Linked DNA regions of Homo sapiens. The protein of the gene in region 1 purifies or fractionates together with the protein of each later gene. This does not show direct contact. Each region holds a gene or a part of one and is shown in the gene's direction. Other genes may lie near its edges. The genes, in order: ZFYVE27, SLC7A2, PLXDC2 and SLC19A2.

Region 1 (7,906 bases):
AATATGTCAGTTTTTATCTCTAAATAAGGACATTTCTTTCAAGATCAAAGTAACACCATACCTAACAAAATTAATAACTCCTTGATATCATCCTATACTCAGTTCATATTCCATTTCCTCAGTTGTACCATCTCTTTTGGCTAAATCACATTTCAGTCCAGGAGTGTGCATTGTTTGTACTTATTATGTCTTTTAAGTCTTTTTTCAGTCTAAGACAATCTCTCTCGTGACATTGATTTGCTGAAGAGACTGAGCCTGAACTGACTTTCCTGGAGAATTTACTACCGAGATTTGTCTGGTTTCTTCCTTGTGGTGCAGACTAGAAGTTAGATTTAAAGGTTGGATTTGATTGAAGTTAGAAAAGTGTTTTTTTTTTTTTTTGCAAAGGTAAATGTTGTGCCCCTGGTGTTGCATTGCATCAGGAGTCACACAAAAACCTGATTGTCCTAAAGAGCAGAGGTTTTTAACTTGGAGCCTATGGGTGAGTTTTAGGGATCAGTGAATCCCCTGAAACTGCATGTAAAATTATGTGTCTGCACATGTGTGTATTTCTAGGGAAAAGCTTCTGGTTTTCATCAGATTCTCATAAAGACCCTCAGTCCTCTGAAATACATGAGAGAGACTGGTAGGAAGCAGGGTGAGTGGAGTTACGTTAACCTCTGAGGATGCCATTGAGTATTTATCCATGCCTCAGTCTGGAAATAGTGGATGTTTTGTTACTAGTTCTCTGGCAAAGGCCCTACATTTTTCTTGTTCACCTAATTTATGTCTGTATCCGTAGAGGTGAGCTAGTCAGTGTTCCAGAGCTGTGTTCTCTACTGTAAGATCACTGTGCTCTTCCCACAAGGGGTAGGGAGACAGTATGAGGAGAGGCTGTTTTCTCCTTTTATAATCTCAGCATGATGTGAAGTTTGGTCTTCTTTAGGAGAGAGGCTGTGCCCCCGGCACATTCTTTGTATGTGTGTGTTGCTCTTTGTGGCAAAGTACGAAAGTTAAGTGTATCCTGTCCTGCCCGTCTCCTTTTCCTCTACTAGTCCGTAGTGCGTCTTAGCACACTAATGTGTTAGGGTTTTTCCATTTTATGGAATTAAAAATTGGAGGATGTGGTAGGATTGGTTAAAGCAGGATGCAGGAGGAGCATTGGACTTAAAAGCCCCCAGGAGCCTGCAGTTTCTGTGCTGCTGGGAGAGGGAGCACTGGTCCATGAAAGTGGCTGTCACGTTAGTTTGTGCTTTTGATTGTTCTTTTCTTAGTAAAGAGGATTTGACTTTGAAGAGGGACCTAATCTTGGGCTCTGGCTATTAGGTCTGAAGCCTAGAGCTGCAGTAAATTGTTAACAGACTCTCTCCTGGGATCAGCTACTCTACTGCTTGGGTCTCCTGGGACCAAAGTGTCAGTAAAGACATTTTATAGAAGGGAAGAGGCTTTAAAATGAAAGTGACTTGAGTGGTGGTGTTTTTATTTCCAAAATGGGATTGGCTTTTATTTCGCTTTTACCCTGGTAGCTGCCACTAGAGGTTCTGAGGCGTAATTAGGGTGGTACAGGTGGAGTGTGTTGAATTTCAGGAGAAAGACACAGATGTCATTTCATTCCCTTACTCATAAATTTCATTAAAAAGTAAAAGCCCCTTTACACTGTTGGTGGCAGTGTACATTAGTTCAACCATTGTGGAAGACAATGTGGCGATTCCTCAAGGATCTGGAAGCAGAAATACCATTTTACCCAGCAATCCCATTACTGGGTATATATCCAAAAGATTATAAATCATTCTGCTGTAAAGACACATGCACATGTATGTTTGTTGCAGCACTATTCACAATAGCAAAGACTTGGAACCAACCTAAATGTCCATCAATGATAGACTGGATAAAGAAAACGTGGCACATATACACCATGGAATACTATGTGCAGCCATGAAAAAGGATAAGTTCATGTCCTTTGCAGGGACATGGATGAAGCTGGAAACCATCATTCTCGGCAAACTAACACAGGAACAGAAAACCAAACACCACATGTTCTCACTCATAAGTGGGAGTTGAACAGTGAGAACACATGGACACAGGGAGGGGAACATCACACACCATGGCCTATTGAGGGGTGGGGGCTAGAGGAAGAATAGCATTAGGAGAAATACCTGAGGTAGATGATGGGTTGATGGGTGCAGCAAACCACCATGGCACGTGTATACCTACGTAACAAACCTGCACGTTCTGCACATGTATCCCAGAACTTTAAGTATAATAATAAAAAAAAGTAAAAGCCCTGCATGAATTAGTTAACCTCATTCAGTAACTCTGAAATACTCCAGAGCACAAGAAAATATATTTAGCCCCAGCACGGTAGCTTACGCCTTTAATCCCAGCACTTTGGGAGGCCAGGGTGGGCAGATCACCTGAGGTCAGGAGTTTGAGACCAGCCTGGCCAACATAGTGAAACACCCCATCCCTACTGAAAACACAAAAACTGGCCAGGTGTGGTGGCGTGCCCCTGTAATCCCAGCTGCTAGGGAGGCTGAGACAGAATCGCTTGAACCCAGGAGGCGGGGGTTGTAGTGAACCAAGATTGTGCCACTGCACTCTAGTCTGGGCAACAGAGCGAGACTCTGTCTCAAAAGAAAAAAAAAAAAAAAAAGAAAATACATTCAATGCTTGCCAGCAATTTACCTGTTTATTTTTCTGATGTTTGTCTCTCTCCTAGTGGCTCACCTATATATTGACACTGCCTTTAGAATTTGGGTGTCGTGGCTTCATTGTTGCATCTGTGCTCCTCTTTCCCTACTAAATGTCCTTTATCAGGGACGGAGCCAGCAGCATTTGCTTGTTCTCAGCAATCTGAGTCTCTGGTCTTCCTTGTTCCCTGTTTGGGGGCTTCTGCATTGCCATTTGGTGGTGGTGGTGGTGGTGGCAGTGATGTATCTGTGTTTGCTTCTGTCTGTTCCAGCTCACTTAAGGTGTGATTGCTAAGTGAATGCTGCACCCTACTTTCATCTTGATTTTTAATATATTAAAATAAAATCTTTACTATTGTTTCTCTTTTTGAATTAATAGGTATTCAAAATAAACTCTCAGATAAACTCTCAAATTTTCAAAAACATGGACATAAGAAGATAAAGGCACAAATGGGGCCAAAGAAGTCCACAATTTGTTTTTTCTTGATTTCTGTATTAGTTGAATCTTGTGCAATGATTATATATTCTTATGAAATTATAAAAAAAGAATAGAGGAAAATATTAAGAACATTTGTCAGTGTCACCTCTTAAGGAGAATACAACCTTACAAAACACAGGTTAAATGGTATTAACTGGGTTTCTTAACTGATATTTTATAAATTCTTCTTCCTTTTGGGAGAAAGCACTACAGACCTACCAGTTTCCTCACCCCAGGTGCTAATGTGTGACATCTTACCGCCTCTCCTGGTCACCAGTCCAAGTGAGAGGCCCCCTTTTCGTTTCTCCTTGACCTTCTGTGTTCCAGGCCTCCTCTTCTGGTTTGATGTCCCGTCTGTGCTGCCTGGTCTCCCCTCCCCAGCTGGAGGAGTGACTCTCTGTAGTGATCAGGACTCTCTGTATTGTAGGTGGCAGATGCCTTTGTGTTCCTTGCTGACCTGCCTGGGCCTCAACGTCTTGTTCCTCACTTTGAATGAGGGTAAGAACTGCCTTCAGGGGCCAGTGGTTTTTGTGAACGAATGTGGGGGAAGAACACCTGGATGCAGCCCCACCCTATGTGTGGGAGCTGCTCTTGTTGCCCTGGAGTTAGTGTTCCTCTGTGTCTGCTTGGAGTCAGAAACAGCCTCCAGAGGGACGATCCAGGCTGAGCTGCCTGCTGTGACCTTGGGCAGATTATTGAACTTCCCTGTTAAGGCCTAATTTTCCTTACCTCTAGAGGGAGGATAAAAATGACGCTTTCCTCCTAGAGTATTTGTGAGGAATGCGGCAGTCTAGGCATAATACTTAGCACAGTGCCTGGCGTGGAAGAGGCAGCCAGTGCATTGTAGCTGCTCTCAGTATTATCGTTGTTTCCTTCTTGACTTCCTGCTGAGGATGCATTGACCTTTTTCCATTTTGGTTTTTAAGCTGATTCAAGGGTCATCTGGGGACATGGCATGAGTAAAGGTACTGGGATGAGGAGCTGATAAGGGATTTTTGCCATATCTGTTGCTTTTCTCTGGTTCAGCTAGTGAGCCTAACGGGAGCTGCTGGGCAGTCACCAGCAGTGAGGAGTGGCATGAAGCCTTTGAGATAGAAGTGTGGACACATGGGTGTCTGTTGGGGTCATGGGTAATGTCTTCTATGAACCTCTTACTACAGTGCATACCGTGACCCTACCCTATCCGTGGTTGGCGCTGGCAGATGGCCACATAAAAAGCCAAACCCCTCAGGGTGAGAATAAAGAGTCTGGGACAGAATGTTTGGAGGAGCTGGGCCATTATTCATGTTTTTGTTCTTTTACTTACCTTGTATTTCTCAGGTGTCTTCTTTGTTTCCTCTGGAGATAGGGATTGAGTAGGTTGAAAATAAATCCAGTTCATATAAGATCTCATTTTCTGTTTCTTAGTTGGACTCATCTTTACCTGTTCAAAACTTCCTAGGATGTTTGATTTTTCTATATATGCTCCCAAAGTAAGTCAGTTCCTATGACAGATGTTTAGTAAGCATTTATTATGGGCCCGCTGCTCTGTTAGCTTGTTGTTGGGGTGCCATGTTACATGGAAGAAGTTCTTTCTTTGAATTTTATCTCGGCTTCGCCATTTCTCAAGGCACAATCGTCTGCAGTGTCCTAAAAGCTGAACGAAAGGCTTCTAGCTTCCTTAGTGGCCCAGAGGTCCGAGTGTCAGGCATCAGGAGCTCCTGGCAGTCACACTCCAGCGTGAGCCTCCTCTGTGCTAGCAGCATCTTAAAACGTATTAAAAGTGAGGATGGGGCCACAGCAGTGACCAAAGGGACAAAGTCCCAGCCCTCAAGAGCTTACTTCATTAGAGGAGACAACAGACATGCCTGCAATGTGTCATGTGGTGATAAGGTCTATGAGGAATGAAGCTGGGTTAAGGGGGCTGGAGAGTAGGGGTGAGACACTGTGTCGTACAGAGCTATCAGGGAAGGCCTGACTGGCAGAGCCCTGGAGGAGGTGAGGAACAAGCAGTGGGCGTCTGGGTGGGCCGACTCCTGGTCTTTGCTTACCTGTGTTACCTGCAGTGTTTTTGATTCTGCAGGTGCATGGTACTCAGTAGGTGCCCTGATGATTTCAGTGCCCGCCCTGCTGGGCTACCTTCAGGAGGTTTGCCGGGCACGGCTGCCTGATTCCGAGCTGATGCGGAGGAAGTATCATAGCGTGAGGCAGGAGGACCTGCAGAGAGGTCGCCTGTCTCGTCCCGAGGCCGTGGCTGAGGTGAAGAGCTTGTGAGTATGGAAGAGAGGCCAGGGAGGTGGGGGAACAGTAACAGCAGCCATGACACTAAGTGCTAGCTTTGTGTGCTCGACATCATATTAGGCAAACCACAGCTGTTACTTCATTTAACCTTTTTAACAGTTCCGGGAGGTAGTTAATATTAACATCTTCCATTTATGGGTAAAGAAAAAGGCTGACTTACTTAGCTAGAAAGTGGCCAAGCTGGGATGAGAATCTCGATCTAGCTGTTTGTTTTCACAGCTTCTGTTCTTTCTTTCTTTTTTTTTTTGAGACAGAGTTTCGCTCTCGTTGTCCAGGCTGGAGTGCAGTGACGCAATCTCGGCTCACTGCAACCTCCGCCTTCCATTGGTTTCAAGCGATTCTCCTGCCTCAGCCTCCCAAGTAGCTGGGACTACAGGCACACACCACCACGCCCAGCTAATTTTTTGTATTTTTAGTAGAGACCGGGTTTCACCATGTTTGTCACGATGGTCTCGATCTCTTGACCTTGTGATCCGCCCGCCTCGGCCTCCCAAAATGCTGGAATTACAGGCGTGAGCCACCACGCCTGGCCCTGTTCTTTCTGCTGGAGAGACAGTTTAGGGTCTTGACTAAGCATGTGCATGTATAAGCCACTGCCTGGGTTCAAATCCCAGCTCTTCCATTTACTTGCTGTGTAACATTGGGCAAGTTGCTTAGCCTCTGTGTGTCTCAAGTTTCTCATCTGTTAAATGGAATGATAACAGGGCTTACTCAGAAGGTGGTTGTGAAGATTGAACAGGTGTCTTGTACTGGGGAAGTGTTGAGTAGATATTAGTTATCATCACTACACTGTGGAGAAACTTCGTAAACATGACAGAGCTGGTACTTCTGAGGAAGCATTTTAAGACTTGAAAAATATTCATCTAACAACTTCAGTAGCAGTGGACGTTTACACCTCCCTTCCCTGGAGTGGGGTCTCTGCATTCTCTTGAAATAGAATAGGGGCAAGAAAAGTTATAAACAAACAGATGGCTGGGCCTCACCCCAGAAATTCCGAGTCAGTTATCTGGAGTGGGGCCTGGATATGTAGTTTTTTTAAAAAAGACTTTCTTACTTTGAAATAGTTTTATATATATATACACATATATATATATATATATATATATTTTTTTTTTTTTTTGAGACAGAGTCTTGTTATGTAACCCAGGCTGAAATGCAGTGGCGTGATCTCGGCTCACTGCAACCTCTGCCTCCTGTGTTCAGGCGATTCTCGTGCCTCAGCCTCCAGAGTAGCTGGGATTACAGGCATGTGCCACCATGTCCAGCTAATTTTTGTATTTTTAGTAGAGATGAGGTTTCATCATGTTGGCCAGGCTGGTCTCGAACTTCAGCCTCAGGTGATCTGCCTGCCTTGGCCTCCCAAAGTGCTGGGATTGCAGGCATGAGCCACCGCACCCAGCCTGAAATAGTTTTAAACTTAAAGAAGTACAGGAATAATACCAAGAATGCCTTTTACCCAGATAGAACAATTATTAACATTTTGCCATGTTGGCTTCGTCTATCTCTCTACATATACATATTCTTTTCTTTTTCCTAAACCATTTGAAAGTAAGTTGCAAACGTGACTTAATACTTCAGCGTGTATTTCCTAAGAACAAGGACATTCTCTTAAATATCCACAGAGCTGTAATCAAAATTAGGAAACTTAACGTTGATAACTAATGTATAATTCGTAATCGGATTTTACCAGTTGTATTAATAAAGTTCTTTTTCTTCTTTTATTAATTTTTTTCCTTTTTTCTTTTTTTTTTTTTACTTTTTGAGACGGAGTTTTGCTCTGTCATCCAGGCTGGAATGCAGTGGCATGATCATGGCTCACTGCAGCCTCAACCTCCTGGACTCAAGTGATCCTTCTGCCTCAGCCTCCTGAGTAGCTGGGACCACAGGCACATGCACCATACCCTGCTAATTAAAACAATTTTTTTGTAGAGATAGGGTCTCATTGTCTTGCCCAGGCTGGCCTTGAATTCCTGGGCTCTAGCAATCCTCCTGCTTCAGCCTCCCAAAGTGCTGGGACTACAGGTGTGAGCCAGTGTGGGTGTCCTAATAAAGTTCTTTGTATCAGTTTCCCTGATCTGGGATCCAATTCAGGATTATACATCATGTTTAATTTTTTTATGTCTCTTTAGTCTTCTTTAATCTGGAGCAGTTCCTCAGTCCTTGTTTCTTGTGACCTTGACATTTTTGAATAGTACAAGCTTATTATTTTGTAGAATCTCCCTAATTTTTGGATTGTTTGGTTCCTTGTGATCAGATTTAGAGTGTGACAAGTGATGTGTCATGTTCAGTACATCCGTATCAGGAGGCACCTGATGTCAGGAAATACTGACTTTGATCACTTGGTTAAGGCATCCATACTGTAAATTATCATTTTACTCTTCATTAGTAGTAATTTGAGGGGAGATACTTTGAGACTATGTAAATATCTTGTTCCTCATCAAACATTTATCCACTGCTTTAAAAATCCATTGATGGGTCT
Region 2 (7,906 bases), on another chromosome or scaffold:
GTCTCGAACTCCTGACCTCAAATAATCCACCCACCTCTGCCTCCAAAAGTGCTGGGATTATATGTGTGAGCCACCGTGCCCTGCTTATTTTTGTATTTTTCTGGTGATAGGGTTTTGCTACATTGGCCAGGCCAGTCTCAAACTCCTGACCTCAGGTGATCCACCTGCCTCAACAACTTCTAATGTGGTTAGCCAGTGAATGAGAGTGTCAGAATCCTTCGATATGTTCCTTTTTGTACAGAATTCCTTCTACATTGGTCCTCTTACTGCCTTTTCAAACACTTGGGTATGTTCCTATCACAATATTATTATATATGATAGTAAACAAATTTCATGTTAAAGAAGCTATAATATCAAAAAAGTAGGGTGAGTATTTTGTTTTTAGAAATTCACTGCCTTCTCATGAGAACTTTGTTCCTACCAAAAGCCTTTCCTCTTGGGCTGGGTGTGGTGCCTCACACCTGTAATCCCAGCACTTTGAAAGGCCAAGGCAGGAGGATTGCTTGAGGCCAGGAGTTCAAGTGTAGCCTGGGCAACATAGCGAGACCCCATCTCTACAAAACAAACAAACAAATTAGCTGCGTGTAGTGGCTCATTCCTGTAGTCCTAGCTAGTCAGGAGGCTGAAGTGGGAGGATCACTGGAACCCAGGAGTTCAAGGCTGCAGTGAGCTATCATAGTATCACTGCACTCTAGCTTGGGTGACAGAGTGAGACACTGTCTCTAAAAATAAAATAAAACTAAATTGAACATTAAAAAGATAAGCTCCTCCACTGCAAGTTAAACTATCCTGTCCCATTTGAGCTAACCGTATACTGGCTTGGGTTTGAAGAGGGCTTCCTGGGAGGATGTACCTGGGATAACCATATGTATCCCACATTTCAGAGGTCTCCCCTTTGTGTGTCTAAATGAAATCAGTAAACCCCAAAGAAAGCTAAATCCTAAAACCAATATTATTTTGATTGTGCAGGTGTTACTGAATCTGATAAATCCCCTGGTGCCTTGAGCTTTAGTAAATACTCTAAGATGTGATTCTCCTTTTATGGTCTCTAGAAGCGTGGTTTTAACTGTGATTGACGTGGTGTGAAAGTATATATGCCAAATTAATTGCCACCCTGTTGAAATAACTTGGGGAATATGCTTCAAAATATGAGTATGTTCAAAAGGATTGTTTTCCCCCTCAGGTTCCATTCTTACCATTTTTGCCAGCGTTCAGCATCTTGGTGAACATTTACTTGATGGTCCAGTTAAGTGCAGACACTTGGGTCAGATTCAGCATTTGGATGGCAATTGGTAGGTCTTTTAATGTCGGGTTCTCTTTCCTATTTCATGTGCTGTGATGAGAGAAACATGCCCTCTCCCCCATCCTGGGAATAAAGGCTTTTTTTTCCCGCTTCTTTCTTTCCTAATTCTTAGGGATGTCCGAGTGCTTTTCCAGATGTTTTCAGATGCCTTTTTAAGTCAGTATCTCCCACTAACCCTGTAGAACCATGTAGGCTCTATTTCCTTCTACTTATGGGTGAAAAAAATGAAACCCAGAAAAAGTCATTTTATATCAACCCAAAACTCACAACCAATTTTCTAAAATAGAACTAAAACAGCAAAATGCCTACATGTCTGCAGTGATCTTAGGAGGGTACTTAAAACGTTGCCTCCTGATCCCCACACAGTCAGTGTGGCTGTTAATAAACAGTTGCTTTGCATACAGTTCTTCGGACTCTCCTGGTGACAGTGACACGTGTAAAGCATGTCCGTGTCCTCTTTGTTAATACAGAGTGTACTTTGCAAAATATCTGATCTTGACTCTGATAACTCACCACTTGTATTTAGGGTATAATTTGAGACTTTATTCCACATATCATTTTGTTTAAAGTACAGTATTGACTTCTAAGAACATCAATTAAAATTTTTCCATATAAACATTGAAAAACTTGTTGAGAGCAAAATACAGTCTATAAAGTTTGGGTCTTCACAATAGAGAGGCACATTCTACCAGGAAAATATTGATCAAGGACACCTTCTGTGGGGTATCTTACATTTGCATTTCATTCTTCTAAAGCAGCGGTCCCCAACCTTTTTGGCACCAGGGACGGGTTTTGTGGAAGACAGTTTTTCCATGGACAGGGTGGGGGATGGTTTGGGGATGAAACTATTCCACCTCAGATCATCAGGCATTAGTTAGATTCTCATAAGGAGCATGGAACCTAGATCCCTCACGTGTGCAGTCCCTTCTGTGAGAATCTAATGCTGCCCTGCTCTGACAGGAGGCAGAGCTCAGGTGGTAATGTTCACAATGGGGAGTGGCTGTAAATACACTGTAAATACTAGAGACTGCTTGCTCACTTCCTGTTGTGTGGCCTGGTTCCTAACAATAGTGGTCTGTGGCCCAGGGGTTGGTGACCCCCGTTCTAAAGTACTACAGAAAGGAAAGAGACAAACTCTATTAAGTTCTACATTTTCCACCTCAATAACTTAAAAGTCATTTTCTGACATACCTGAAACATTGATTTTTTTTTTTCCTGCCCCAACAGGCTTCCTGATTTACTTTTCTTATGGCATTAGACACAGCCTGGAGGGTCATCTGAGAGATGAAAACAATGAAGAAGATGCTTATCCAGACAACGTTCATGCAGCAGCAGAAGAAAAATCTGCCATTCAAGCAAATGACCATCACCCAAGAAATCTCAGTTCACCTTTCATATTCCATGAAAAGACAAGTGAATTCTAACACTTGCAGGAGCAGAGCTGGTCATCGTCTTAGCATACATATCCTACACTGAGTAAACCGTAACGGGATGTCATCAGCATGCTGGGTTGTCATGGGTTTGCTGCATACATAGTTCACCCTAATTTATACTTACTCATCTGGACAGCATCTCCTCAGATGGTGAATTATGTGCACGGGGAAACCTCCTGAGTGGAAGTTTCATTCATCAGTGATGAATAGCCCCCAAACAGTGGGAGTGTGTATGTATGTGTGTATGTATGTATCTATGTATATGCTTGGGAACATGAGTGTTACAAGTTAGCTGGTGTTTTACTATTATTGTGTTACATTTTTCCAGTGTCGTCATTAATCGGTGGCATATACTGCACATACTGAAATAGAGGGAAATCACTGAATGTAAAGAGGTTTCATCTATGCCCCCTGCAGTTGGGGAAATACTAGTAGCTTTACCTTGTTTGACTTCATTAATGTCAGTTTAGGGGATGCCAAAAATGCAGTTACTCATCATGGTGTCTGTCACTGGTTAGGGGTAAGATGAGGGGATAAGGAAAGAGACTTTTCAATAAGTTGTGAATGCCAACAGTGGGTTTAATGCAAATTTTTTTTCCTGTGAGGTATGACAGTTTGCTCAAACTTCAGCCAACAGGGGTGTCTGCTTCTGCTGCACTACACAGGCCAGGAGTGGCATTCCATGCCACTAGTTGGCATCCTTTTGAACTTTTGTCTCCTTTGCAAACAGTGGTCCTAAAATACGAGGTCTTCACTTGCTGTGAATGACGTATCCCCAGTCAGGGACTTAAGAGAGGCACTGTGATATACTTGGGACCCTTTAAATTAAAAAGTGAAGATAGTCACCAGGGCCAGAAAGCTCATGGAGTGGCCGTAATGAGAATATGTTTGAAGATCAAAGAGTTAGACCAATGCTTGAATAAGTAGACCCCAAGCATCCTTTTCTAAAAAGTGACTTAAAATAAGCCAACAGACTCTCCCAGACCACACAACTAGTGGAATGATTCCTCCTTTTTCCATTACTTACTTAATCACAGTTTAGTTTTTTTCTTAACCTCGTCAGGCCCAGAGTTCACTTCTTTGTTTCTCTGTTTCTTTTGTCTTGTCTTAGAGATGAGGGGGCTACAGCAGCATCATGCAAAGAGGGAAAGATGAAGGGATAGAAGAAGAGAAAATCCCCCTGTTCTGATAGGAACGGCCTGTTCCATTGTTAAATGGCAAATGGCCCAATTTAAGGGCTTTGGATCTAATTTGCCTCTGATGTTTCCTTTGGAAACATTTAGGAATATTTTTCTCCCCCTACCCCATAAATTGTGTAGCACTTTTTATTCCATTTGCTTTCAAATGACTACACTAAGCCTAATAATACAAGCTCCAGTGTTATACAATAACCCATCAGTGATTGGGGAATCAAACATTTTGGTTTAAAAAACATGATTATTTAAAACTGGAAACTAAAAAGAATCAAATTGAATTAAAGCTATATAAACACAGTTAACCCTTGTAAATGAGTAAACAAATTTTTACATGTAAGATTCTCTAATTGTCATATTTTACTTTTTAGGATTCCCTAATAGTGGACTGTTTATTTGCAGTGTATTTGCTTCTCATGAACTATTTCTCGTACAAATCATTAAATAGTTCATTGGATGAGGCTGGGTGACATTTCCCAGGACAGCATGGTGAACATTACCAGGCATGCTAGCTGGCCCGTGTAATCCCAAGACAAGGAAAACATTCGTTTTCCTCATGGGTCTTCCAAGAAATGAGCTATTTTATTGATGCCATTAAAAAGCAAGTTGCGATGGTTTTGTATAGCCAGGAGTTTATTGTGATTAAACATCAAAGAAACAGGTAGAAAGCCTGGGTTTCTGGCTGCTAGCGTTATAGCATCCATGACACAGAACTCATTACGGACATTCCACAACTTCCAGGGTGCACATGGTAAAATCTGAAGCCCAGAATTTTCTCTCAAGCTGCGTGGTTTACTGGAGAGAAGGAGTTGGATAAGCACAGGCTCGGGTATTTTGGTAGGGACTGTAGGCATGCTCATAAATCCTTGCTGTTGTCACAGTACGCTGAAAACCCGTTTGATTCTATACCCAATCAAGAATAGACCCTTCACACAGGAAATGTGAACAATTGTTATATATGAACACTCAAATCTTTTACTGTAACGAAACCAAGAAACTTGTTTAGAATGTGATAGGCAGCTAAAACTGTTATGCCCACTGTGCTCAATTTGAAGCAGAATTTAGTGAAAAATTATTTTTCCACATTGAAACACTTTGCAGACACAAATATCTATGAAAAGATGCTTTGTCAGCCACTGTGCCTTTTTTTCTGTGAAGACTCAACGGATGTGTGTGTTTGTATGTTTGTTAACAGTTACATATGTTTGTATGAGTGTATATATATATCTGTGTGTGTGTATCTCTAACGTCAGTGTATAAGTAAGTTGGGTTTATGGTGGGCTTTGACTATGTCATTAGGTGGGTACAAAACCCAACTGATGTGGAGAAAAATTGATGTTTGATGTTGATAGATATGCTTATACCTAATTTTTAGTTTTTAAACTATTTTAAAATATACTATGATTTTATATGTATATTTCCTATAGACTCTTTAAGACGTATTTATAATGTTTCTAATATGAAATCACTAAACTCTAGTACATTATAGCAGGTGCTTTGTAATCTGGAATGGAGAAGAGGTAGGGGCATTTGGGGATTCCTGTTTACTTGCTGCTGCCACACCTTTTCCGACTGATCTGTCCTGGTAGGTGTTTATTAGCAAAAGTCAGTATCACCAGCTCTTTGGCACCTTTCTGTTTCTGCTTGTGAATTCATAATGTTTTCAACTAAATTTTTTTTTTCTTTCTCAGAATTACCTAAATGTTTTGTAGAGTTTTGACTAGTAATCAATCAAAATTATATAAAGTCTTCTCCAGTAATTAAGAAATACATATGCAAATTCTTTTGTGATTGAGTAAAAGCAGCTTAAATTACTTTTCTTTTCTACATTAAGAAATATATTCTCAACATTTTCAGTGAGAATTTCTTGTAATGGCACCTCAAATTTTATACTCTTAAAAAAAAACAATAATTTGTGAATTACCACCAAAAGGCAATGGCAGTCCTACATTTAAGAATAGAGCTATGCAAACTCTGTTAAAAACTATGAGGAAAACTTATATTAGAACTTTTGATATATACTAAAATACTGATTATCTTAATCACATTTTCCCCAGAGATAAACATTGAGAGAACGAAAGCCAAAGTGTCATTTAAGAGAGATATATATGAAAAAGTAACATTAATATATAGAACTTTACCATCACCAGCCGTAGTTGATAGAAAATATTAGTTTCAGAATTACCCTCCTTTAAAAAATAAGAGACTATTTGTTTTCTTTTAATTTCTATGAATAAAAGAAATTTTTAAAAACTTTAAAATTTTAAATATTAGTCAAAATACTTTTTAAGTCCTGAGTGCTTACAGGTAGTTGTTAAAAAAATTTTAAGGCCAGGCATGGTGGCTCGCTCACACCTATAATCCTAGGATCTTGGGAGGTCGAGGCAAGCTGATCGCTTGAGCCCAGGAGTTTAAGACCGGCCTGAGTAGCATAGCAAGACCCTGTCTCTACAAAAAAAACAAAAATTAGCTGGGCATGGTGGCATGCACATGTAGTCAGAGCTACTGGGGGTGCTGAGGTGGGAGGATCGCTTGAGCCCAGGAGAGTGAGGCTGCAGTGAGCTGAGATTACGCCACTGCACTCTAGCCTGGGCAACGGTGAGACCCTGCCTCAAAAAAAATAAAAATAAAAATAAAACACTTTAATTAGAATCTATTTTTACCTATTTTCTAAATTTATTTAAATGCTTAGCAGGAAGCATAAGGAAAAGCCATCGGCCTCCAATACCCATGATGACAGAGGGAGCACTTGAGCCTTGCCTTCCCTCCTCTTAAATCAGGGTGTGTTCCGAGATTACAGAACATCACACCTTGGCGTGATGAAATCATGCCAAGATTCTGACTCTCCCTTTCCGGTGATACTGCTCATGATTTCTCCTAATACGCTTCAAGCAACTGTTACCACAAAAAATACAGTTTCCGCAGGGCTTTAAAGGATTGAGTTTAGCATGTATATCATGCGTTATTAAAGTTCACGTGATTCATGTGAAATTAACTGTCCTTTTTGCTAGTGCCAAAACAGTGCCTTCTCTGCACACTTTACTTGTTTATAAAGTTCTCCCACATGTCCTTAAATATCAAGGGGGAAAGTATGGATATTCGCGTAGCAATAATGCCAGCAAAGGTCATTTTCATTTTTTAGTCATATAGATATGAAAATAAGTTCATATAGATATGAAATTGCTTGACTTTATTGTTTTGGGGAGATTTTTTTTCCTTACATGATTATATTAAACACTTTAAAATAGCCTTCCGGTTTCTGGATTTTGAGAAGCCTGATCTGTTATTGTTGTGGTTGTTGGTGTTTGTAATATTCATTATTGTTTGTATATACACGGTTTAGTCTTACTGATTTCAAATGCATTTTGTTATTGCTCAACCCAACTGGTAACACTGTTTGCTGGGAGCATTATACTTAACTTTGATTCACCATGGTTGATGCCACTGCCATGATCGCTGGGTCTTAAAGAGCTTTCCCTAGCCACTGACAGCCCCGTGGAGATCATAATCAGGGCCCCAGGCTGGTTCCAGGATCAGGCAGCCTATAGAGTGTGAGCATCTATGTGTAGCTACCCTTGTTGGGTGGGCTCTTAGACTGATGGGGTAGGATATGAAGTGAAAGACTTCAAATGCAAGTAAGGTAGTTTGGGCTCCTTAATTCCAAACATCCCATGAGTATATCAAGATGAATAAGGACCAAGGGACCTCTGTGACTCATAGAAGGGCTGGCTGAATCCTGAAGTAGCATAGTGGGACCTGGTCTACAATTTATGCACATGCACTGACAGCCTTGCTGTGCCACGTGTCTCACCAAGACCCAGTTGGGAAAGAGCGTCATATTGCCAACAGGTTGGGTTTCTCTGGCCTACACCTGATTAATGGGCCCTTTATCTTTGGTGTCCCCTAGGAGTGTCCAGTTGTTTTATTGCTGTATTTTGTTATTGCAGTACTTAATAAAAATTGTTGATAGGGCCCAA
Region 3 (7,906 bases), about 78 Mb from region 1:
TCATTTTGTAGAGTAGTAGGGTTTTTTTCCTTCTTGGGGTTTTTATTTTTTTTTTCATGTTAAGTCTTCGTGGTGGTGGTACTAATAGTGGTAGTAGTAATAGTAGTGCCAGACATGCTAATAATTGTGGTGGCAGTTTCTTGTTCATTTTGGTTGTAGCAACCGTAATACTCATAGTGACATAACTTATTTTAATATTCTAGTAATAAAATAATTAAAAACCATATCTATGGCTTTTACATGTTAACAAATTCTTCTGTATTTCTACTTACTTCTTTGGAAACAATTTGAAATTTCACCTTTGACATTTGATAAATTGTAGATTTGGGAAACATTTTCCCGATCAAAAGAAATAACAGTTAATGGTTTCTGTGATTTAAAAATTGGGTTATTGAGAGTGGGAGCAGTTTCTTGGCAAATCTATGTAGAAACATTGAGGGGAAAGTACATATATCTTATTTACTTAAATACTAACAGTAAGTTTGAAGTGTCTGAAATCATCAATGCTCTTACATTTTGCAACAGTGTATTTCTAGGGATTGCTGCTGTTCTTCTTACAAAGTTGTCTTGGAGAATGGATTTTGTATTTATTTAAAATTATCTTCCTTCCTTGAATAACTGCCCTCCATCCTCCAAGTTAAGCAGTTTCTTCTATTTGTACTTGGAGAATATAAAGAAGAAAAATAACCTACTTGGAGCTATTTTCTCTGAAATAACACTTTCAGAGTCTAATTCAAACATTTCTCTTCAGAGATGGTATCTATAGAATTTTTGTATTCATTCTAATGATAAATTATAAATGCATGCTGGAGAGGATAGGAGAAAAAATAGAGACCCTGGAAAAGAGTTACTCTTCATATTTATAATGTTAAGGATGTAATATTGCACTTTGAATATTAGGAGTATGACTCTGAAAATCTAGAAGGAAATATAATAAAAGCAATGACCAAATCACCATAATATGTTTAATATGCTTGAGCTGTGTGAAATTACAAATGTACAAAATTCTGCTTAAAGCATCAGGTATTTGTTTTGAAAGATAGTGCTTGGCAAATAAGAAACAAGGAGTCACATAAGAAACAAAAAGTCATGATGATAAAAGTACACATTGAAGATTTTTACAGTTAAAAATTTTTTTAGATGAATAGCTAGAGTTCAATTATGCTTTTGATGAAAAGTTAAAAGGTATTCAAAGGAAAGAAGATATTGCCAAAAAGAGAGAAATTAATTTCTAAGTAAATAACTACAGGTTTAATTCTGCAATAACTTACCTAGACATCACAATTTTGAATTTGAAACAATGAAGACTGCAATCTGCCAATGAAATATTTATTCAGACCATAAAATGAGTGATCAAAGTTTAACATTTTTTGAGCTTTAAATATTATTATCTTATTAATTCCTGTGAAAGTAGAAAAATGATTTATATTAGTGTCGGGTATCTAATTAACTGATGACTGCCCAAACATTACAATTGCATTGTCACAAATAATTTGCCTTGCATTTTATTTGTGTGTGTGCATTTGCATGTGTAATCTCAATTGTGTATTTCTTAGATTAATATTAAAATTAGTTAGCAATCCCTGAGCTGACTCTCCTTTCAGACAGCTAAAGACCTTGAAAGCAAGAAGCCAGCACAGGATTAACAATTTGTCATGGATAATCCACAAAGTAAATAAACCTAGTGTGAATAATTGAAAGTGGGTTAGACATGTAACATAGGAGCTATTGAAAGTTAATTCAAAGCCAAAGTTCTCCATAATAAATTCCCTCTCATTATCCAACTGCTAGAATAGACTGGCATTGATTAAATCTCTAAATAGAGAGGCATTTGTGCATTGTCAATGTTTTACCACCTTACCTGCAAACATATAGACTTTATCTTCTTGACAGTGTGCTGATAATATAGAGGCTTGAGCAAACCAACAATTTGAAAACGTCACCATGGGTGTTTAGCCCCCTTTCAACTTTCAAGAAAAAAAAAAAGAATCAAAACATTTTCTGCATTTTACCAGATGTCGTTTCTAAAATTCCTATGCTGAGATGGTAGCTTACATAAATACCATGAAAATGAATTCACTAATTAAAAGGACTTGTGTGGTAAGCTATTGTTAAAATAACAAGGGATTAATAATAGCAAATTGAATATTTGAATTACTTATAATACTGTATTAGCATTTTTAGCCTAATAATCTCATCCAGATAATGGTCACTTTCCCCCCAATTAAAATTGTACATGTTATAGATTTCGGATTTGCAAGGTTCTACCAAATTATACAAGAATTTGTTACTTAATCCAGACCAAGTATTGTTAATTAGATACTAAGATATTAAATATGTTCCTTTTTTTCCAGCTACCATGACATTTTATTTTCATAATATGACTGTAATTGAGTTGGAAGTATTTTAATCATAATTTTATATGGGCTTCTTTTTCTGAATATGTTTCCTATTTTTCTAATTCTAGGTTTCATATACACTGGAGAAGTCGTACATCGAATGCTAACAGCCACACAGTACATAGCACCTTTAATGGCAAATTTCGATCCCAGTGTATCCAGAAATTCAACTGTCAGATATTTTGATAATGGTATGTGTTGAGTAGCCTATTTTTTGCTGCATGTATATTTTTAAACCTCAAGCATCAGATTCATGTTAATGTTTTTGTAAACTGTTTATTTTTTGGTGTGTAAACTGCTTGATGCAAATGGTCTGAGAGGACAAATATTATACTGCTAAGATTTATAAAGTACACAAATGGCATTCATTCATTCAACACATTTATTAACATCTACTATACACAGTAAAACTGAGTTGCTGTAGACAAGACCTCAGACAAAGCAAACGCATTTATTTGATGCTATTTCAATAAGTCAGTTTTCCAATTTTCCCATCAGAAAAAAATGGAAATAAGAATAATTTTGTTAGTTCTGATCTTCCAGTTGAGGCAAGTGCCATAATATATTGACATTAAATTTCCAAAACTTATGACTTGTATGTATCAATAAGATGAACACATATTTTAAGAAGTATAAAGTAGTTAGTTGTGGGTAGTTCAACTGAAGAAAATAAAGTTTTCTTGACTTTAGAAAATGAGTGAGAGCCTGTCAAGATTTATCAAATATACCAAGAGCAATGTATCCCTGCTATTACTTTTTGGGACATATAAAATAGAGAAAAAAACTATAATAAATCATTAAGTGGTGCCAAAATCCAAGCGAGAAATTCAAGGTCTTGGAGACATAAATGAATTTTCATCTCAACATCTTATTGAAAGCTGTAACTTTGGTAGAGAAAATAAATTATAGGTAACAAAGAGTTTATATTGCAATGATTAAATATAGAATTTTCTGTGTATTTATCATTCAAAAATGATATTTATTTGTTTAAAAGACAATTTTATGCCTGCAAATAATACAAGCATTTGGGGTGAACAGAGTTATTTCTACTTTTATCTTATTTCTGATGATCAAGGAAGAAATTTGCTCATGGTTGGAATAGACTTGATGGTAGCTGTAGCCTTGGAGAAATATGATCACTTTGCTAAGAGCCATCTCCTGACCAGTGTGATGAAAGCCATTTTACAGGTCAAAATAGCACAATGAGGAAACTAAACATAGTTAGACATTCACCTTAGGAAATACACGTTGAACATCTTGAGTAACACCAAGGTATGATCCAATATTAGGTAACTCTAAGTGTTAGCTGCAATAATGATTCATCTCTGTTATTTTAAGAACTATTATATTCTCTTCTCTTCCATTTTTTAAAAACTCATGAGGTGCTAACACCCAAGGATGTGCAAGTGGACTGTAAGTACACTATTCTTGAGGCAAAACTGCAGCCAGAAACTTATCTGAAACTTATTCTATGATTACCATGCAAAATTGCCTTGGGAGTCTATCCTACGGAAACAATAAATGATTTAGTGAACACTGACTATTTTCCAAACTCCGACATTCACTAGGTGATGTTAGGGTCATTTACTCATGGGCACATGATTCTAATGACCAAGTTTTTATACTGTTGCTATCAAAATCATAAAGCATATTAAATAAGTCTCTCTTCATATATTTTCATATACCTTGTTCCTAGGTAGCTCTTAATATTTGAATTTTACTCGTATTTGAATGATTTTTAAAAATTGATGTATACTACTCCAACTGAACTCTTAAGTTCTTTAAAAACAAGGACTGTGGCTATAAGAAATCATTTTATCTCCAGTACCCTGCATAGACACTTTATTATTTAGGACGTAGGTCCTAAATAATTATTCAATGAATGAATAAAAATAATTACATACGTAAAGTGAGTTTTATGTCTGAGAATTGTAAAAGTATTAATACTCAAGAATGCATGTATTGTTTACCCACTGAAATATCTTCTGTGTAATGACTTATTCCATAGGAATCAAATATTGAGGAATATTGAGTTCAAACAATATGATAATGAAAACTTACGTTTTATTAAATGAATGAAACACTTTTAAACACTGTAAGACTCTTCACGAAGCCCTTTTAATACCACAACAACTTGCTGAAATATTTTCAAGTTTAGTTAGAATCATTGACAGGATACTTAAAGATTGGAAACTCAACAATTTAGGAAAGCAAACTTCTCTGGAAAAGACAGCAGCAGGTTAGAAAATTTAAATCAGCAAATGTTGAGAGAGCTATGCTATTACATAATATAAAACTTAACATGTGCAAACAGTACACTTTTTTTTGTTTTTTGTGTTTTGAGATGGAGTCTCACTCTGTCGCCCAGGCTGGACTGCACTGGCATGATCTCTGCTCACTACAACCTCCGCTTCCCGGGTTCATGCCATTCTCCTGCCTCAACCTCCCGAGTAGCTGGGACTACAGGCGCCCACCACCACGCCCGGCTAATTTTTTAATATTTTTTTTAGTAGAGATGGGGTTTCACCGTGTTAGCCAGGATGGTCTGGATCTCCTGACCTCGTGATCCGCCTGCCTCGGCCTCTCAAAGTGCTGGGATTACAGTTGTGAGCCACCGCACCTGGTCAACAGTGTGGTTTTTAACAACCTGCTACTAACAAAATATTAGGAATCCCTTCCTCAGAATTGGCATTAAAAACTTTAATTTATATAGCCCTCTTATTTTCATAAATAATCAAGCGTAAGTATATTTTCTTGTATTTAATGCAGGAATGTCTTGAAGGCAAAAACTATACTCCCCATGTTATAGGAAAGGAAACGGGTTCATGCAGATTAATTGTGTCCAAGTTCACATGGAAAGTTTTATAGAGACAAGATGCAAGTCTAAGTCTTCTGCCCTCTGGTTCATTGTTTTCACTGCATCACCAGAGTGCGATAGAAACTAGAAAATAAGGAATAGACTAGAGCTTGAGGGTTGTAGACATGTGTGAAGGAAAAAGAAGTTAGGAGGCATTTCACAATCAGAAAATTCCTATACTTATAAAATCATGGGAGGTTTCCTGGCTACTGTCTTCTTTTGCTCTATTTTTTTTGTTTTCTCTTCTTTTCTTTTCTCTTCCTTCTTTCTTTTCTTTTCTCCTTCCTTCCTCCCTCCCTCCTTTCTTTCTTCCTTGCTTCCTTGCTTCCTTTTCTTTCTTTCTTTCTTTTTCTTTCTTTCTTCCTTTCTTCCTTCCTTCCTTCCTTTCTTTCTTTTCTTTTCTTTTTCCTTCCTTCCTTCCTTCCTTCCTTCCTTCCTCCCTCCCTCCCTCCCTCCCTCCCTCAGGACAATATAGACACGGAGATGCCCGTGGAAGGAAGAGACCTGAGTGGTCTTCACTCACAGCAGTGATAATGGCTAAAAGCACCAAGGTCAAGTTAAAAAACTTTTTTTTCTTTTTTACTTTTAAAGTTTTGCCTCAAAAGAAATACATTTCTTTACTTCAACATCCTTTCAGGACTTACAATTGGGTGTTCAAAATATTTGAAATAATGTGTCTATTTAAAATTGTCAACCAGCTCAAGAGATATTACTAATAGCACCAAATAGTTACTGAAAATTAATTCTTCCATGCAATTGTAATTTTTAAATATATCAGATATTTATTACTGGGAGATAAGATTTGCTCTTTTAGTTCTATGATTTTCATTTTCAGCACAACTTTTTTGGGCAACAGTTTTTCTAACCAAACAGAAAAATCTAATATTTAGAGTGAAGAAAAAGTCTTAGCAGCTCATTTCTTTTCTTTTTTTTTAAAAAAAGAGAGTACACAATGTCAGTTAAAACAAAAATTTGAATTCTCACTGGTGACTATTAAACTATGTTTCAGTTTTTATTTCATGCCCAATCGTTTATGGTAAACACTGACAGAGTGATTCAGAATATAATATACAGCACTGAAGTTTCATCCCAGTGTGCTTCAAGGGGACTTCAAAAATCTTAGTCCAGGGCCCTTTGAGCTTCTTACAGCTTCCTGGAAGAAACACAACAAAGACAGAAATACAAGCATTGTGAACTCAAGGAGAAAATTCCCATTAGTGTTAAAGGAACTCCTTCAATGTGGAAAAGTATAATTTTAAGTATGGAAAAGACATTTTCAGGTCTTTTGTATGTGGTCCTAACTTTTTAGATGTGTTTCTCTCTCAGCATTTGTCAAATGTATTTGAAGTTCATTCAATCCACTTGGGCTGCATTTTGAAAGTGGCTTATGGAAATTTAAGCAGACAGTATCTATTAACATTAATAAAATTCCTAAGGCAAAATTCCCCCACACTGCATTAGCTCAATTATTGACCTTAGTATGAGGTTCTATTTTACTAAATATTTAGAGAGTACTCAATCCTTTAAAAAAAATCCCAAATGCTATTTCAATAACAGAATTTGATTAACCACATAAAATCGAAATAGTACAACTACCAGATTTGAAGGCCAGATGCAAAAACATTTTTGTGAAAACTCCCACCAGAATTGATTGGTATGTTTTTCTCATTGCATTTCTTCTTTTTTCAATGGGTGTATAGGCACAGCACTTGTGGTCCAGTGGGACCATGTACATCTCCAGGATAATTATAACCTGGGAAGCTTCACATTCCAGGCAACCCTGCTCATGGATGGACGAATCATCTTTGGATACAAAGAAGTAAGTGATGCGTTGATAATTTCTTTCCCTTCCCCTTGTTCTTGACTGCTGCCTTTCCTCCAAATGTCAAGAAAGGGACATTTTACAGCCATGATCCTCAAATCATTTTCTTGCCTCTTGGTTTCCTTTGCTTAATAAAAAATGTTTTGATTAGTTTTAATTTTCTGGGTGCATTGATTGTTAGCTCTTTTGTATTCTGATATTGTTGGCATCAGGACTCATCAATTTCATAAAATTATTGAGTAATTATATTGACTAATTATTGAGTAATTAGAGTGAAATGTCTCTAAGAAAAAAAATTCAATTTGGAGGGATTTCTCATCTAAATGTAAATGTTTATATTTACGTATTTTCTTTAGTTAGTTTTTTTTTTTTCACCTGGTTGATTTCTTTGTTATATTTTGGTTCTAATTTCAAAAGCATTTATAGACACGAAAACTTATGTGGCTCAAGGACCCAGTACTGAGAGAGTTCTAGGATGGCTGTGCTTTGGCTAATGTTTGTTGAAACCAGATAGGAAAGATTAATTAGAGACCTAAGTGACAGAAAAAACAAGGAAATTTAAACTTAGGTTTGTTTCATTTTAACAAACTGACAAAGTAAAGAATGAAAATTTACTAAATTGTAGCCTTAAATTTACAGAATATTTAGACTAGAATAACTGTGTGTTTGATTTCCAACTCTTCTGACAAAGTAAGTAAGGCCTGTTGGACTAAGAATATAAAAATAAAGTTCCAGGAACTACAAATGTAATGTTTTAGATAGTCTCTAATTATGAGAGAAACCTGAACTGTGAGAATTACTAATGAGCATTATTAACCCATAGGTTAA
Region 4 (7,906 bases), on another chromosome or scaffold:
TAAATCCTAAAACAAAAGGAGAGGAGAAAAAGATTTCTTCTGTCTACTCTCAAAAGTTTTTTTCTTAGATTTCAGGAAAAGCATTAATTTTAAAACAGATACCAGTGTGTAAGTTTTAAGCAGGCTAAAATTTGACTGTATGTTAATAGTTGAAGGCCAGACTTTCAGTAAAACAGATCTTTATCTCTAAAAACTTTTTTATCCTTTCATCATTGTAGCATGTGTTTTGACAGACATTTACTACCTTTCTTAGATTTTTTTAAACATTCCACCTATTTTGCCTGATATTCAGAGCCTCACGAAGTTTGGTTTTTACCTCCTTGACAGCCTTATATCCTACTACAAACCTTCTTCCCCTTACCACTTCCACATAACCAAGCTCCATTCATATTAATCTAATAGTCTTAAGTCCAGCATATCCACAGTCTCATCTGTTGACATGTACTCAAAGACTTATTCTCTTCTTGGAATAATCTTCCCATATATATCTGTTGATATCTTTGTTAGCCTTTAGGTTTCTCATCCTTCAAGGTCCATTTTGAAGAAACAACCCTGTATTTCCTATTTCCATTATAAATACTGCATATATTATATATTCCTCACTAGGTTCAATACTCCTGGAGAGCTGAGGATCTCAGTTTATTTATTTAGAGACAGTCTTGCTCTGTTGCCCAGGCTGGAGTGCAGTGGTGCGATCTCGGCTCACTGCAACGTCTACCTCCCAGGTTTAAGCGATTCTCATGCCTCAGTTTCCTGAGTAGCCAGGATTATAGGCTTGTGCCACTACTCTCAGCTAATTTTTTATATTTTTAGTAGAGTCGGGGTTTTGCCATGTTGGCCAGGCTGGTTTTGAACCCCTGGCCTCAAGTGATCTGTCCAACTTGGCCTCCCAAAGTGCTAGGATTACAGGCATGAGCTACAGTGCCTAGCCTTATTTTATTCTTTTTTTTTTAAATTTTTTAATTTTAATTTTAATTTTTATTTTTTGAGATGGAGTTTCGCTCTTGTTGCCCAGGCTGGAGTGCAATGGCGTGATCTCGGCTCACTGCAATCTCTGCCTCCCAGATTCAAGTGATTCTCCTGGCTCAGCCTCCCAAGTAGCTGGGACTACAGGCACACGCCACCATGCCCGGCTAATTTTTTTGTATTTTTAGTAGAGATGGGGTTTTGCCATGTTGGCCAGGCTGGTCTCGAACGCCTGACCTCAGGTAATCTACCCACCTCGGCTTCCCAAAGTGCTGGGATTACAGGCATGAGCCACTGCGCCTGGCCATTTTATTCTTTTTGTCACCTCCGTGCTGGTTGAAAACAATGTTGTGCAAATAACTGCCTATTAGTTGTTTAATTGAAACTTGATTCTAATTTAAAGCCTAAATCTAAATTAGAACTTAAAAATGAACATCTGTTTTCCCTTGACTTTGTAGCTCAAGAAAACACAAGCACTGATCCAAAGAGTTGTGAAAGGCACCTTGGTCATAATAAAATCAATTCCCGTTGCTCACATAGCAGATGTTACGTGAAGTGAGAAGTTGGAGTATGGACAATTAATAAGGGTCTGTAATTGGTACATTTTTGCCTGTAGGATGTTTCCCTTCAAGATTCAAAATATCAAGGAAGCATTTTTTGCTGTCATTGGAAACACTGAAAAAGAAAAGGATCTGCCTTGGAGACCCATTAGTTAAGTGCTGGAGACTGTAGTCTTTATCTCTTCATGAATGCCCTGTAAAAGCACCTCAGTGCAGATTGGAAAAGCTACTGCAAGCATTAGAATTAACCTGGAAGATAGTAGATGATTAATAGCAGTTTTCTGATTGAAGAAACCAGGCATTTTAGTGTGGCGGATTCAGAATTTATGAATTCAGATCCTTCTTCTGCCAATCCTGTGATAACTTGGGACAATTCACTTAACCTTTCTTTAAGGCCAAGTTTCCTTGTTTGTAAAATAGAGATGATAGAAGCATTTACCTTAGGTTTGTGGTTTGGATTAAATAGAGAGAATTTAGAGAAAGTGCTTAGCGTGGTGTGTAACACAGCAGTAGAGGTTTGTTATTATGATGCTGATAATAGTGTGAGTGGGGCATTCCCCCTGGGTTGATGTCTTTTAAAGGAGAAAATGCAGGTTTCTTATTTAGAATAAGTTAAAGAGAAACTATCTGGTCTTCCCCCTCTCCCCTATTTGCCTTTCTTTTTGTTTTTAGTTGTTATTGCAAGGTTGGCAGTGTTACTCTCCTCCATCTTCATTATCTAAATTGTAGTTTTGTAATAGTAGAATTAGACTCATGAGTAAAGATACGTTAAATTGATAATTTAAAGGATGAAACTTAGACAATGAAAACTTAGCAGTTAATCATTTTGGGACAACTATGGTTAAAAGTTATGTAACATGTCTAAGCACAGACAATATTATTGGAGTGAAGAGGTCATCCAAAATCCCAAAACAAAGGAAGATGAACTATTGAAGGGAGCAGTAGAGGACATTTTTAAAGGAAAGGTTTAATGGCTAGTACTTCATGGTGCTATGTTGGGGAAATTGTGAAGGTGACACTTAGTCAAACAGAGGAGGCAGTTTCAAACTTTAGAAAATGGACAGGCTGGGTGCGGTGGTTCACAGCACTTTGGGAGGCTGAGGCGGGCGGATCATGAGGTCAGGAGTTCGAGACCAGCCTGGCCAACATATTGAAACCCTGTCTCTCCCAAAAATACAAAAAATTGGCCCGGCATGGTGACAGGCACCTGTAATTCCAGCTACTCGGGAGGCTGAGGCAGGAGAATCGCTTGAACTCAGGAGGCAGAGGTTGCAGTGAGCCGAGATCACGCCATTGCACTCCAGCCTGGGTGACAAGAGTGAAACTCCGTCTCAAAAAAAAAAGAAAGCTGACAGATAGTATCTGTAAAAGTATAGGCCACAAAGGAATGACAAGTTGTTAATTAGAACACAACTGGAAATCTCAAGATTACCCTTACCTGCTTTGGTTTTCTACTTAGAGTTATTTAATGCAGCTAAGGGCACTTTTTTCCTCATTTGCTAAAATTTCCACAGTTTTGAATACGAATCATTTCTACATTTCTTGATTATTCGTTTAGGCACATAGTCAGGTGCAACAAAATTTCCTGATCAAGTGGAGCTTGCTAACTGATTTACCAACACAAATTAGACCAAAATTCATGAAGGTGAGGCCATTAAACAGATCACTTTTGTCTGGAATGTATTTCAGAAAACAGGGATTATGTTTTACTTTTATAGCTATGCTCTGCACTGGCAAGAGATTTTGCAACAATTTTTTATTGTTTGCCTAAAACCTTAGAACCTTAGCTCATATTAGACTTGAGTGAACTGAGATGTACAGGAAAGATAAAAAGAAAGTTACTATTGGTCTCAGAATGTAAAAGTCTGGGATTAGGTTGCTTCATCACAAAGTATTCAGCCTTTTACCAAAACTACCTTTCAAAAAGCACTTAAAAGTTGAGGCCACTGACAAAAGGAAGGAAAAATCTCCTACAGTGATTGTTGTTGGAAGAATGGGAATGATAGCTCAATTAATTTAGTTAATTCATACTGCCCCAGATGTCCTTGTCAGCTTGTCCTCTAGTCTTCAGACTTTGTGAATAAATCAGGTGGAGTAAGTAATTTACATGTTGTGTCTCATTTACTTTTTGCAACAAACAACCGCCCTTTACTGATAATGGAGATTAAGGCTAAGGGGAACTAAAAGAATGTTGTCTACAATCACACAGCAAGTGATGGAACTGAAATTCCTGTTGGGGTCTTTCTGGTTTAAAGTTTATTTTAAAGATCATTTCTACTATATCCCAATTTTAAAATATGCATTAGAAAGAAAACAGCAAAAACTTCTTTTTTCTATTTAAAAACAAGCAAAAAGAAGGACATAAAAGTTGCCTATATTCCTGCCATCTAGAGAGACTTAATTCTGTCAAGACTGTAGGACACATTGACCATCTTTATTTGTTCCTCTGCCCCAAAAGAAACAAAACTTAAAGTCAGAGAAGCTTAATGAAACAGTAGGATAAAGGCTCCCTATCTTGTGTCTAGAAGTAAGAATTGACAGTGATTCCGTTTTCAAAGCATTTATTGAATAGTATCTTCCAAACAGTATGCTGGCTTTTAGACAGGTTATACAGGTGAATGTAGGGGTCTATCCTTAAAAAGCCTATAAGGCAGTTGTTCTCAACTCTGGCTCATTTAAAACTCTATTGGGAAGTTTTTAGAAAATATCTGTGGCTGGGCATTTTTTTTTTTTAAAGAGACAGAGTCTTGCTCTGTCATACAGACTGGAGTGTAGTGGTGTGATCATAAGTCACTGCAGCCCCAAACTCCTGGGCTCAAGCAATTCTCCCACCTCAGCCTCCTGAGTAGCAGCCATAGGCATGTGCCACAACGCTTGGCTAACACATTTTTTTAAAGCTTCTTAGGAGATGCAGCCATGGTGAAGAGCCAGTATTATGAATTAATTGGGGAAACTGATGCATATAGATCAGTATTAGGAGAGTTTGAGGCTAGGCCAGATGGCTCACATGTCTGTAATCCCAGCAGTTTGGGAGGCTGAGGCTGGTGGATTGCTTTGAGCCCAGGAGTTTGAGACCAGCCTGGGTAACGTGGTGAAACCCTATCTCTACCAAAAAAAAAAAAAAAAAAAAAAAAAAAAATTAGCTGGTTGTGGTAGTACAGGCCTGTAGTCCCAGCTACTGGGGAGGCTGAGGTGGAAGGATCACCTGAGCCTCACCTGAGGCGGAGGTTGCAGTGAACCATGATTCTGCCACTGCATTCCAGCCTAGGTGACAGAGGGAGACCCTGTCTCAAAAAAACAAAAAACAAAACCAAAAAAAAAAAAAGGGTTTGAATGTTGTAATACAAGTACTTTTGGCTTCCGCAAAGTCTTTCTGAATAAGGAAGTCTTTGAACTAGGCCTTGATTAATGGGAAGAATTTATTAGGAAAAAGATGATGGTATTGGGGATAGGAAAGGATATTTCAGGCTGGGCGAGGTGGCTCACCCTTGTAATCCTAGCGCTTTGGGAGGCTCCTCATTTGAGGTCAGGAGTTTGAGACCAGCCTGGCCAACATGGTGAAACCCCACCTCTACTAAAAATACAAAAATTAGCCAGGCGTGATGGTGGGTCCCTGTAATCTCAGCTATTCGGGAGGCTGAGGCAGGAGAATCACTTGAACCTGGGAGGCAGAGGTTGCAGTGAGCCAAGATCGTACCACTGCACTCCAGCCTGGGCGCAGAACAAGACTCCATCTCAAACAAAAAAGAGAGAAAAGACATTTTCAAAGTTATCTGAACTGCTGTTGTCAAGGTTGAGATCTTTGAGGTATTTGTAGGTTGTTTTTTATGAATAAATTCTTTATGAGTATTCCAGGTCCTTTCATCACTAATGTTTTTTGTTTTTTTTTTTTCTCTTTCTACCAGGTCTTCAATGAAATTTATCCAGTATGGACTTACTCTTACCTGGTGCTACTGTTTCCTGTGTTCCTTGCCACAGACTACCTCCGTTATAAACCTGTTGTTCTACTGCAGGGGCTCAGCCTTATTGTTACATGGTTTATGCTGCTCTATGCCCAGGGACTGCTGGCCATTCAATTTCTAGAATTTTTTTATGGCATCGCCACAGCCACTGAAATTGCCTATTACTCTTATATCTACAGTGTGGTGGACCTGGGCATGTACCAGAAAGTCACAAGTTACTGTCGAAGTGCCACTTTGGTGGGCTTTACAGTGGGCTCTGTCCTAGGGCAAATCCTTGTCTCAGTGGCAGGCTGGTCGCTGTTCAGCCTGAATGTCATCTCTCTTACCTGTGTTTCAGTGGCTTTTGCTGTGGCCTGGTTTTTACCTATGCCACAGAAGAGCCTCTTCTTTCACCACATTCCTTCTACCTGCCAGAGAGTGAATGGCATCAAGGTACAAAATGGTGGCATTGTTACTGACACCCCAGCTTCTAACCACCTTCCTGGCTGGGAGGACATTGAGTCAAAAATCCCTCTAAATATGGAGGAGCCTCCCGTGGAGGAACCGGTAAGCTCAGCCTTAAATATCTTGTAATTGCTACTATGGGGGCTGGACCCGTGGTGAAAAAAACAGCAAACTCCCTCTTGGTAGATCTTGTATTTATTTGGATTCATGTTTTATCCTGAGTTGGTTTATTGCTTTATTCATTCATTCATTCATTCATTCAAGCTATGGTTTATTTATATTAGGGATGACACATTTATTTTTTCCTGGAGTGCGTGACCTCCAAAGTCAGACTGATACAGCATTATATTGTTCATGTCAGAGATGCCTTGGATTGCAAGGGCTGTGTCTTCATCTTTTGAGTGTTTGGCATATAAATAAAGCACTCAGAAAATTGTTGCTAAATGAGTAGATGAAATGATTCTAATAAATGATTAAGTATCTACTTCTAGTTTCTGAATTGAAGCCCAAATTATTATTATTATTATTATTATTTTTGAGACAGAGTCTTGCTCTATTGCTGAGGCTGGAGAACAGTGGTGCGATCTCGATTCACTGCAACCTCCGCCTCCAGAGTTCAAGCAGTTCTCCTGCCCCAGCCTCTCCCTAGTAGCTGGGATTATGGGCGCTCGCCACCACGCCCAGCTAATTTTTGTATTTTAGTAGAGACGGGGTTTCATCATGTGGGCCAGGCTGGTCTCGAACTCCTGACCTCAAGCAGTCCACCAGCCTCAGCCTCCCAAAGTGCTGGGATTACAGGCGTGAGCCACCGCACCCAGTCATGAAGCCCACAGTATTTAAGGGTAAGAAGTTAATTTCCTCTTCTGTGCTAGAAGGGATATCTGTTATTTATTTTTCAAATGACAATTTGCTGAAGTGAAGTAGTAATGAATAATACAGACGAAGAGATCACAAGAGGACAGTTTGAGGTGGTGATGGAATAAATAGTAAAAGTGTGTTATGAAGCTGTCTCTTGGAAGAGAGAGGTATGGCATTAAAATAATTTATCCATCTGTTCTGTCTAGCCAGGAAGATGAATTCCTTTCCCTAGACACCCACCCTTTTTTTTTTTTAAATATTCAAGTGTTTTTTTTGTTTCTATTAGGTTATAAGCTGTGAGGAACAAAGTTAATTCCAGCCACACTGTAGTCTTAGTTTTCCTGGGACATGTTTGGAAATAAGCCTATTAACATTCCAGCTTTGTAGGTGGCCTCAGTCGGACTGAGCTCCATAAGCTTTGTAGGCTGGCTGATAATAAAGAACCATTATGAGTAAAGTCTTTCATTCTCTACTGAGAGTTAACTGAATTGTTTAAATGTGGCATCTAATGTCCTCATTGAAAATTACTCTCTTTTCTCTATCCCCGTTCTTCAGCTCTCAAATTACTACTTGAAATTTAGGTTATCATCCCAGAGAGCCTGGGTAGACTTGTAGAGCCTGGGCAACCCTCATCATGAAACTCACCTTGATTACCAGGGCACCTGTGAGCACTTTTTGTCAGAATGACCAAGGATTAAGTGGCAATGAAATGCTGATTTTTTTCATAGTTTGTTAGGTGATATTAGAGAGTCAACAGAGGGTTGATGGGGGAGGGAAGGAGGTGTGTAATCATTTCATAGATTTTATGAAGTGGAAAAAAAATAAAGACACTTCTTTATCTGTTTTGAATGTGTTACAGTGGCTTTAGCTAAAATTAACGTATATACAGATAATATGTGTATAAATATATATTTTAGATATTAACATATTGACCATAGTTCTAAAGATTTTTATAGACAGTTTCAAACTTTTTTGAATATAAGTAAGAAACATAGAAAACATTTTACATAGAAAACCTGTACATACATAGGTATGTATATATTTTATATATAACAGAAACAAGTTTTACAACAGTGTTTTATTCTGATACATTCTTTTATTTTTTTTAAATTCAGT

The links.
Region 2: the proteins of ZFYVE27 (region 1) and SLC7A2 purify together in Homo sapiens (affinity purification with mass spectrometry; 2 studies listed by BioGRID and IntAct, with this or other methods). This does not show direct contact.
Region 3: the proteins of ZFYVE27 (region 1) and PLXDC2 purify together in Homo sapiens (affinity purification with mass spectrometry; 2 studies listed by BioGRID and IntAct, with this or other methods). This does not show direct contact.
Region 4: the proteins of ZFYVE27 (region 1) and SLC19A2 purify together in Homo sapiens (affinity purification with mass spectrometry; 2 studies listed by BioGRID and IntAct, with this or other methods). This does not show direct contact.

Annotation. Positions count from the first base shown.
Region 1 is NC_000010.11:97,739,520-97,747,425, forward strand, and holds part of ZFYVE27 (protrudin), read left to right. Parts: intron 1-3,574; coding exon 3,575-3,645; intron 3,646-4,073; coding exon of another isoform or gene 4,074-4,112; intron 4,113-5,209; coding exon 5,210-5,396; intron 5,397-7,906. UniProt on the Homo sapiens protein: Key regulator of RAB11-dependent vesicular trafficking during neurite extension through polarized membrane transport. Promotes axonal elongation and contributes to the establishment of neuronal cell polarity.
Region 2 is NC_000008.11:17,562,420-17,570,325, forward strand, and holds part of SLC7A2 (cationic amino acid transporter 2), read left to right. Parts: intron 1-1,183; coding exon 1,184-1,292; intron 1,293-2,530; coding exon 2,531-2,727; 3' UTR 2,728-7,906. UniProt on the Homo sapiens protein: Functions as a permease involved in the transport of the cationic amino acids (L-arginine, L-lysine, L-ornithine and L-homoarginine); the affinity for its substrates differs between isoforms created by alternative splicing.
Region 3 is NC_000010.11:20,140,828-20,148,733, forward strand, and holds part of PLXDC2 (plexin domain-containing protein 2 isoform 1 precursor), read left to right. Parts: intron 1-2,467; coding exon 2,468-2,590; intron 2,591-6,956; coding exon 6,957-7,075; intron 7,076-7,906. UniProt on the Homo sapiens protein: May play a role in tumor angiogenesis.
Region 4 is NC_000001.11:169,475,283-169,483,188, reverse strand, and holds part of SLC19A2 (thiamine transporter 1), read left to right. Parts: intron 1-5,431; coding exon 5,432-6,034; intron 6,035-7,906. UniProt on the Homo sapiens protein: High-affinity transporter for the intake of thiamine. Mediates H(+)-dependent pyridoxine transport.